Regions from separate parts of the Homo sapiens genome. Here region 2 is linked to region 1. A link means that fine-mapping ties the variant in region 1 to the expression of a gene that starts in the linked region. Tissue or cell type: whole blood. Region 1 holds a variant in brackets; the other region holds the start of a gene. All regions are shown on one strand. Distances are from middle to middle.

Region 1 (5,261 bases):
CTCTTGACCTCAGGTGATCTGCCTGCCTCAGCCTCCCAAAGTGCTGAGATTACAGGCGTAAGCCATCACACCTGGCCAATTTTTAAATTAATAATGAGAGGCTGGGCATGGTGGCACACACCTGTGATTCCAGCTACTCAGAAGGCTGAGGTGGGAGGATCGTTTGAGCCCAGGAAGTTGAGGCTGCAGTGAGCTGTGTTCACACTAGTGCACTCCAGCCTGGGTGACAAAGCAAGACCCTGTTGAAAAAAAAATTTTTTAATAATGAGATATCTGACATTCTTTTTTTTACACTTGGTCTCTGAAATCAGGCTGGCTACATGTGAAGTGCTCTATAGCTACCTGCGGTCACTGTATTGGACAGTGCAGGGTTGGAAACTGGACTTAGGAGTCAGGGCTGGGTTCAAGCCCCACATTCCATCCCTTACTAGGCTGGGTAACTAGGCACATTACTTAGCCTCTCCTATTTCTGTTTCTTCATCTACAAAATGAAACTAAAAATAGTACCTACTTTATAGGGTAATTTTGTGGATTAATGGCACATGAAGCATATGGTGCATGTTCAGTAAATGTTGGCGATTATTAGCAGTAAATTTGGTGGTTATTGAATTAGTGACATTGCAGTATCACTGTTAGGGTGACCTCCATTCCCATCAGATGATGTGGCTTGAAGCTATTCCAAACGGGCAAGGTTAAAAAACAATAGGCAAACTGGGAAAACCTATTTGCAACACACATGAAAACAAAATGTTGTTATTCTTGCTATGTAGGAAGTGCTTGCAAATAAATAAGAAAATGAATACCAATGGAAAATTCAAAAGAAACAAACATCTGAAGTGATTTTTTTTAAAGACCCACTTTAAATAAGTTCAACTCTCCTTGGAATCAGACATAAAAATAAACAAAAGACATTTTTTGTTGTTGTTGAGTAACAGATCAACAGCCAGAATTTGGTGGCACCTAATATTGAAGAAGGTGTGGGGAGATACCTTCTCTTTTTAAATAAAGATTTCCTGAAGTTTCCATTGTTATATCTGACCACAGACTATCCAGAGAAACAAGCTGAGTTCTTGCTTCAAGGAGGAACTAGCCAGAGAGCCTTTTCTACCCACTTTTTCCCTTGTCCAGATAAAGCTAAACAGCCAACAAACCCCTCCTAGCAAGTTGACTTTTTTCTTGTCATGTGTGCAGACTCTGCACATTAGCTTTGCTAATAGTCCTTTACCACAGGTGTTGACATTTCACGTGGCTTGAAATAGCCCCCAGCATTGTTCTACATTTGGACAGGGCTGACATACTTAAGCCACAATACCCCCAGAATATTATTAGGCTTCTGGCTACCTCCTTCAGGAATGTTTTATCTGCCAGCAGGATTGGCTACATAATTTTTGGGGCCCAGGGGAAAATGAAAATATGGGCCCCTTTCTCATAAAAGGATGAAAAAAGCCCTTTCATTTTTTCTACAGTCTCTCTCTCAACCTGTCATGATGTTTTTATTTACTATTTATTGTTGTACTCCCTTGGACATGGAGATACTTCAGAGGTCAGTGCAGGCCCTCACAGATGCCCAGGACCATGCCGCAAGACAGCATGCATTTTCCAGTTTGGGAAAGCTTTTTTTTTTTTTGACACGGAGTCTCACACTGTCACCCAGGCTAGAGTGCAGTGGTGCGATCTCCGCTCACTGCAAGCTCCACCTCCCGGGTTCACACCATTCTCCTGCCTCGGCCTCCCGAGTAGCTGGGACTACAGGTGCCCGCCACCATGCCTGGCTAATTTTTTGTATTTTTAGTAGAGACGGGGTTTCACCATGTTAGCCAGGATGGTCTCGATCTCCTGACCTCGTGATCCACCCGCCTCGGCCTCCCAAATTGTTGAGATTACAGGCGTGAGCCATGGCGCCCGGCCCAGTCTGGGAAAACTTGATGGGGAGTGGGGTGAAGAGACTAATGCTTTTTTTTTTTATTCAAGATGGAGTTTTCACTCTTGTTGCCCAGTGCAATGGCGCAATCTCGGCTCACTGCAACCTCCGCCTCCCAGGTTAAAGTGATTATCCTGCCTCAGCCTCCCATGTAGCTGGGATGACAGCTGCCCACCACCATGCCCAGATAATTTTGTATTTTTTTTTTAGTAGAGACGGGGTTTCACCATGTTGGCCAGGCTGGTCTCGAACTCCTGACCTTAGGTGATCCACCCACCTCGGCCTCCCAAAGTGCTGGGATTACAGGCTTGAGCCACCACACCCACCCTATTTTAACCAATTTTTTTTTTTTTTTTTTTTTTTGAGACGGAGTCTCGCTGTGTGGCCCAGGCTGGAGTGCAGTGGCACAATCTCGTCTCACTGCAAGCTCCACCTCCCGGGTTCACGCCATTCTCCTGCCTCTGCCTCCCAAGTAGCTGGGACTACAGGCGCCCGCCACCATACCCAGCTAATTTTTTTTGTATTTTTAGTAGAGACATGGTTTCACCGTGTTAGCCAAGATGGTCTCGATCTCCTGACCTCATGATCCGCCCGCCTCGGCCTCCCAAAGTGCTGGGATTACAGGCGTGAGCCACCGCGCCCGGCCCCATTTTAACCAATTTTTTAAGTGTAGTTTAGTGGCACTAAATATAGTCACGTGGTTGTGCACTCACCACCATCATCCATCTCTAGAACTCTTCCATCATCCTAAACTGAAACTCTGTACCCATGAAACAACTCCTCCCTCATTCCCCTCTACCCAGCTCCTGGCAACCACCATTCTACTTTCTGTCCCTGTGCACTTGGGAGCATCACCTTTCTGGGACATCTGCAACGGTTCTCTGGAGGATTCTGTCTCCCCTTTTTTAAAAATTTATTTTGTTTTCTTTCTTTTTCTTTTTTTTTGATAGAGAAGGGGTCTCACTTCATTGC[C/G]CAGGCTGGTGTCCAACTTCTGGGCTCAAGCAGTCTGCCTGCCTTGGCTTCCCAAAGTGTTGGGATTACAAGCGTGTGGTCTCATTTTGGAGGGCAGGAGGGATAGAGATAGCCATAACCTGGAGAATATTGAGATGTGGACAACAAGGATGACAAAATTTGGTTCTATGAGAAATGATCTGTAAGGAAGAGTGGAGGGAACTGAGCATGTTCAAGACAGTGAGGTCTCGGGATGATCTCAGTTCAGGAGGTTTCAGTATATCAACAGATTTGAAAGGAGCAAGCAGGCTGGGCGTGGTGGCTCACGCCTGTAATCCCAGCACTTTGGGAGGCCGAGGCGGGCGGATCACAAGGTCAAGAGATTGAGACCATCCTGGCTAACATGGTGAAACCCCGTCTCTACTAAAAATACAAAAATCAGCTGGGCATAGTGGTGCGTGCCTGTAGTACCAGCTACTCGGGAGACTGAGGCAGAAGAATTGCTTGAACCTGGGAGGCGGAGGTTGCAGTGAGCCGAGACTGCGCCACTGCACTCCAGCCTGGCAACAGAGCGAGACTCCGTCTGAAAAAAAATAAAAAATAAAAGGCGCAAGCAGTGTGATATAACTGGAGAAGAGAAGACTCAGGCAATCACACGGACTGTCTTCACCCAAGCGAAGGATGATTATGTAGGAAAGTGCATAGAAGATGCTGTCAATAGCAATATAAAGTGAATCATGTTAACAATTTTTCAGTGGCCACATTTTTTTTTTTTTTTTGAGAAGGAGTCTTGCTCTGTTGCCCAGGCTGGAGTGCAGTGGCGTGATCTCGGCTCACTGCAACCTCCAACTCCTGGCAAAACCCTGTCTCTACTAAAAATACAAAAATTAGCCAGTCGTGGTGTTGCACACTTGTAATCCCAGCTACTCGGGAGGCTGAGGCAGGAGAATCACTTGAACCTGGAGGGCGGAGGTTGCAGAGAGCCGAGATTGCATCACTGCACTCCAGCCTGGGTGACAGAGCAAGACTGTCTCAAAAAATAATCAAACACATTTTTTTTTTAGAGTCAGGGTCTTGCTCTTTCACCCAGGCTGGAGTGCAGTAGTGGGCTCAAGAGATCCTCCTGCTTCAGCCTCCCAAGTAGCTGGGATTATAGGCATGTGCCACCATGTCTGGCTAATTTTTTTATTTTTACTTTTGAAGAGGTAGGGTCTTGTTCTGTTGCTCAGTCTGGTCTTGAATTCCTGGTCTCAAGCAGTCCTTCTTGAGACCTTGGCCTCCCAAAGCGTGGGGATTACAGGCATGAGCCAGGGGTCCTGATCAGTATTCTTTTTTTCAAGAATAAATTTGAATATGCTTCATTGCAAGGTATATTGTTTCCACTGAGCACCTAGGATTTCTCAAGTTCTTTGTATATTATATGAGTCTTTCACAGCAATGTTAAGGGACAGGTGAAATAAACATAAAATAATTCCTGGCCGGGTGCAGTGGCTCATGCCTGTAATCCCAACACTTTGGGAGGCCGAGGCGGGTGGATCATCTGAGGTCAGCAGTTCGAGACCAGCCTGACCAACATGGCGAAACCCCGTCTCTAGTAAAAATACAAAATTAGCCGGGCATGGTGGCACATGCCTGTAATCCCAGCCACTTGGGAGACTGAGGCTGGAGAATTGCTTGAACCCAGGAGGCGGGGGTTGCAGTGAGCTGAGATCGCGCCACTGAACTCCATCCTGGGCAACAAGAGCAAAACTCTGTCTCAAACAAACAAACAAACAAAAAATTCCTCTTTACAGAGGAGGCAATTAAGACCCATTGTCAATCACCTAGTAGGCATCGGGACTGGGGTTTGAAAGCACATGTCTCTAAAGTCCATGCTTTTATTTGTAATGCCAAAAGACTGGAAACAATCTAAACACCCCTTGATGGGAACCAGTTAAATTATAGTAGTCCATACAATGTAATACTCTACAGCCGCAAAGATAGATAAAAATGAGGATACTCTCATATACCGATAAGGAAATGTCACCAAGATAGGGTGTTAAAGCGGGGGAAAAACCCAACAAACGTGTAGAACGTGTACAGACTGGCACTAAATATGTTAAAATGGAGTAAGGAAGGGTATAGATTTGTTTTAGCTTGTATGTGTAGAAAAACAACGTTAGAAGGATAAACAAAAACCTTATAACAGGGTTATCTATTTAGGGTGGGGGAAAGTGGGCATTTGGGGGACAGGGACAGAAGAGATGTACATCTTTTCATTTTTTTTAGTTTTAAACATATAAATAAATTATCTGTTCAAAAAAGCAAATGCATATAAACATTTTTTTAAGCAACATGAAATTAAACAAAACTGCTGTCCCTTCCTTCCACTGTACCATGTGCCTTAGAC
Region 2 (5,000 bases), 130 kb after region 1:
CAGGCAGTGTGGGAAGAGGGATACCTTTGCCTTTTAAAATTTATGTCCTGCTTTACTTCAGACATTACACTAAATAGGAGTGTTGAGTATAAAAATGAATTCACAATTAAAGTTGTTAAATTATTTGTATATAACTTTAAAAGGAGTTTTTTTGAAGCTTTGTAATTACATTGAAAGTATATTTGTTTCCTTGAAAACAATTTTTTGAAAAGTGAATAATAATATAATACAGCTTTCAAATTACTTTATGCTGTTACTTTATTTCTATTGTATTCACATGTGAAAGTATGTGATCAGTTGTTGCTGTATCAGAGATATTAGAGATTCTTTATTAGTTGGGCATTCTTTATGACCTTTTCTATAAAAGAGTAAGGACATTAAAATGTAAGATGCATGATAAAAATATAAGTAGCGAGGCTCATTGTAGTTAGCCTAAATTAAGTAATGTTTAAGGTAGGTGTTCATGGCCAGGCGCGGTGGCTCACACCTGTAATCCCAGCACTTTGTGAGGCCGAGGCGGGTGGATCATGAGGTCAGGAGATCGAGACCATCCTGGCTGACACACTGAAACCTCGTCTCTACTAAAAATACACAAAATTAGCCAGGCACGGTGGCGGGTGCCTGTAGTCCCAGCTACAGGCTGAGGCAGAAGAATTGCTTGAACCCGGGACGTAGAGTTTGCAGTGAGCTGAGATCGCACCACTGCACTCCAGACTGGGCAACAGAGCGAGACTCCGTCTCAAAAAAAAAAAAAAAAAGTAAGTGTTCAGAGTAATACTTTTCTACATTATACTGAGAGAAATTATAAATTATAAAGTATATCAAATTATATTATTTTACTAATTTTACTTTTATGTAATAAAATGCAATATATTTAAAAATTGTTAAAAAAATAAAATTTATGTCCTGCTTTTAGGCAAATGGGGAAGGCGGAGAACTTTCCACCCACGTATCTACATCGTATCTACATCTTCTCAATTGTCTTCGGCTTGAAATAATCCTTAGGCTAAAGAGGCGTATTTTGGGGTGGCACATTCTGGTGTCCTTACAGGTACACTACTTTTATTCATGTCTGTTACTACTATTACACCCCCTTCACCTTGGGCCACCCCATCCTCAGTCTCCCTCATTTTTCTTTACAGTTAGCACCATTTACCCATTCACGGAGAACCTTACAGTTCTCGCAACAGGGTGATCACTCAGTAAGTACTGTTGTCCCTTTGGTCTGTTTCTGGCAGCGATTAGCTGTGCGCATTCTTTGAGAGGAGCGACGGAGGGAACAGAAGAGGGTACTAGTGAAGAACTAAGGTGCTTCACCCAAATAGATAGGGAAGGAGGAGGAGAGCTGAGGCGAGCCTCAGCTTCTGCCTTTTTTTTTTTTTTTTTTTTTTTGAGACGGAGTCTGGCTCTGTCTCCCAGGCTGGAGTGCAGTGGCGCAATCTCGGCTCACTGCAAGCTCCGCCTCCCGGGTTCACGCCATTCTCCTGCCTCAGCCTCCCGAGTAGCTGGGACTACAGGCGCCCGCCACTATGCCGAGCTAAATTTTTGTATTTTTAGTAGAGACGGGGTTTCACCGTGTTAGCCAGGATGGTCTCGATCTCCTGACCTCATGATCCACCCACCTCGGCCTCCCAAAGTGCTGGGATTACAGGCTTGAGCCACCGCGCCCGGCCAGCTTCTGCCTTCGATGTCTTCTGAAGGAGGGTGGGCTTCGAGGCGGCAGGATGTGCTTAGGGCACTGAGTGGCCCAGAGTGGGGAGCTCCTGCAGGGTTGAGAGGACCGGCGGGGCGAGGTCGGGGCGGGGCTCGCAGGACCTGGGCGGGGCTCGCAGGGGCTGGGCGGCCTGGGGGCGGGGCTGGGCGGAGCGCGCAGCCGCGCAGCGGTGGGAGGACTGCGGGGCTCTTGAGGCCAGCTGCAGAGCTTGTGGAGGCCATGGGGCGCGTCGTCGCGGAGCTCGTCTCCTCGCTGCTGGGGTTGTGGCTGTTGCTGTGCAGCTGCGGATGCCCCGAGGGCGCCGAGCTGCGTGCTCCGCCAGATAAAATCGGTAGGCGAGAAGGGGGCGGCGCGGGAAGGTGCTGGAGCGCGCCCCGCGCCGGGCGGCCGCTGCGCAGTGCGCCCAGATCCCACAGCCGCGACGCAGTCCAGCGGTGCAGGCCGAGCCAGCTGCGCAGGTCGCGCTTTCCCCCATTCACACTTCAGGGCGGCTTTCAGCTCTGGTCGGAATAGGACTGTGCATTCCCAGGCGTGGAGAGGTGCCCACTTGAGGAATGGGCGTGGACGGGGACAGGGGCGGGCGGGCAGGCAGGCGCCTAGCGTACCTGTAGCCCCTGTCTCTTAGGTGTGGGGCTCCGGGGAGGCCTAGGTTTCTCTATCTTCCCGTTGAACACTGACCGTGAAGACTCCAGTGTTCTGGCTTGACCTGGGGCGCCCGGCCAGATTAACAGGCTCACGCAGGCACAGCACAGGGAGGAGTGCAAACAAGTTGACCCTGCCTGCTTCCCTTGGGAGGCTGAACCGCCTTCCCCCAGCTCCGCTTTGCTGAGGTCGGCCTGCTCTCAGAGGCCCTTGGCTTGCACAGTTTCTCCGCCTAGGACTAACACAGCTGCAGAAAGAATCTGTTCTCTTTCCACTGTCAAGAGCTCCAGTGTCAGGAGCCTTGGCTCTTTGCTTCCTGTCTCCCTCCCGCCCCCCTTTAAAGTTGTGTTCTTCGGTATCATTAACCTATCTACATTGAATCTAGACACAACAAAGCTAGGCATAAATGGCCGTCACTTTATTAAAAATGCGTGCTGGAAAGGTCCACCTCTAATGTGCCCGTGAGTTGGGCATCTGGAAGGGTGTGCAGGCCCCTTGGTTCCTCCATAAAGACCTGTGAGAATCTTTGGGCATCTGGAAAAAAAATCGAGTTAATGTCAATATGTTAATTAATCTACTGCTTTTGTCTGGGAACAGTGTCTGTCCAGATTCAGGGAGTTAGACCTTCGCTGCAGGTGTCACTCTTCCCCCACCAAATTGTTGGTAATAGCTTTGAGTAACAACCTCTGCTATTGATGGTCTTTCAAAAACAAAACAACTCACAGAGCTGGTAAAAGGGGAAAATATAATCTTCTGTTTTTTTCCCTCATAGCGATTATTGGAGCCGGAATTGGTGGCACTTCAGCAGCCTATTACCTGCGGCAGAAATTTGGGAAAGATGTGAAGATAGACCTGTTTGAAAGAGAAGAGGTCGGGGGCCGCCTGGCTACCATGATGGTGCAGGGGCAAGAATACGAGGCAGGAGGTTCTGTCATCCATCCTTTAAATCTGCACATGAAACGTTTTGTCAAAGACCTGGGTATGTAATTTTGGTCTTGGAGCTCACCAGATTACTGTGTGACATCCCCGGATATTTTTATCAGATGGAGAACTGAAATTTCTGCCTTGTTAATTGCCTTACAGAGACGTTGGTAAAACTGTTTTCCTCACTTTCTTGTTAGTTGGTACTGCCTGAGTTAGGAGCAGTTCTGCTGTAATGGGACACTAGTTGTCTGTATCTTCAGTTATCTGGAATTACAGCCATGGGGTGGGGGTGGGAATGGCTGCCATTGTCTTTTTTTTTCTTTTGAGGAGTTTCGCTCTTGTCGCTCAGGCTGGAGTGCAATGGTGCGATCTTGGCTCACTGCAACCTCTGCCTCCCGGGTTCAAGCGATTCTCCTGCCTTAGCCTCCTGAGTAGCTGGGATTACAGGTGCCTGCCACCACGCCCAGCTAATTTTTGTATTTTCAGTAGTGACGGGGTTTCACCATGTTGGCCAGCTGGTCTTGAACTCCTGACCTCAGGTGATCCGCCTGCCTTGGCCTTCCAAAGTGCTGGGATTACAGGGGTGAGCCACCGTGCCCGGCCTCTGTTGTCTGTTCTTAAAATTCTGGGTTTGTGTTAAAGAATCAGAGAAGGTTTGGAGATAGTCATCTCATTGTGATCATTTTGCAGCTGAGTAAATGAGACCCAGAGACTTGAATTGTCTGGCTCAAAGTCACTCACATATGGCCATGGCCAGGGTCAGTGGCTCATGCCTGTAATCCCAGCACTTTGGGAGGCCGAGGCAGAGGATCACTTGAGCCCAGGAGTTAGAAACCAGTCTGGGCAACATAGTGAGATCCTGTCTTTACTAAAAATAAAAAAGTTAGCCTGGTGTGATGGCACAAACCTGTAGTCCCAGCTTCTTGGGAGGCAGAGGCAGGAGGATCCCTTGAGCCTGGGAGATAGAAGCTGCAGTGAGCCTTGCATGCCACTGCACTCCAGCCTGGGCAACAAAGTGAGACCCTATCAAAACAAACCACCACCAACAAAACAAACTCCGTCACACAGCTGTGGATGCAGACACGTGCCTAGAACTTGGGATGTGCAACTGCTGCCCTGACAGCAGAGGAGCTGGATAGGTCATGGGGAAAGTCTGACAGGCCTCTGGAGGCCCTTTCGGCAGGGAGTATTTTGTAACTTTGGCCTCCTTCCAGTTATCTGAAATATCCAGTTTTGCAAAATAGGATTCTCACAGGAATGGAAGTGCCTCAGCTGCCTTCCACATCCTCTGTAGATGCTGCCTCTGCTTCCGTTTCCTCCACGAGGGCGAAGGTATACCCAGAACAAATTATGCCACGAAGATGCATGTCTGACATCTTTGTTTTTAAATTGAATTCAGTTGGTACTCTGGCTTTTTTCCTTTGACTATCCAGTTTTTTTAGACTTTTAGTCTAAAAATAGCCAGGTAAAAATATATCTACTTTTGATATATTAATATTTACATGATCATCTGACCCATCGCCTAGCAAATCTGCTTTTGGACAGTGTAGTGAAAGTATAGTGTTTCACACTGTTCCAAAGATAGAGCTCCTTTATGTGTCTCCTGAGAACTGAGGGAAGCCCCAAATTCACTCAGATTACGTTCTTTCATTTGATCAGCATAGACACCACTGACTTAGCTGTGCTTTATGTTTTTGCAGGTCTCTCTGCTGTTCAGGCC

Evidence for each region. PIP is the estimated chance that this variant, and not a neighbour inherited with it, causes the effect.
Region 2: it holds the start of PCYOX1, and the variant in region 1 is fine-mapped to the expression of PCYOX1 in whole blood (INTERVAL, PIP above 0.99).

What each region holds. Positions count from the first base shown.
Region 1 is chr2:70,127,021-70,132,281 of GRCh38, forward strand. No RefSeq gene overlaps it. Among named protein-coding and RNA genes, the nearest start is that of LINC01816, 4.3 kb to the left of the region's middle. The variant C/G (reference allele first, on the strand shown) is at 2,894.
Region 2 is chr2:70,256,232-70,261,231 of GRCh38, forward strand. It overlaps PCYOX1 (prenylcysteine oxidase 1), which reads left to right and starts at 1,906. Exons shown (of 6, transcript NM_016297.4): 1 at 1,906-2,045; 2 at 3,129-3,335; 3 at 4,981-5,000. The coding sequence starts at 1,934. RefSeq lists silencers at 1,762-1,891, 2,162-2,271.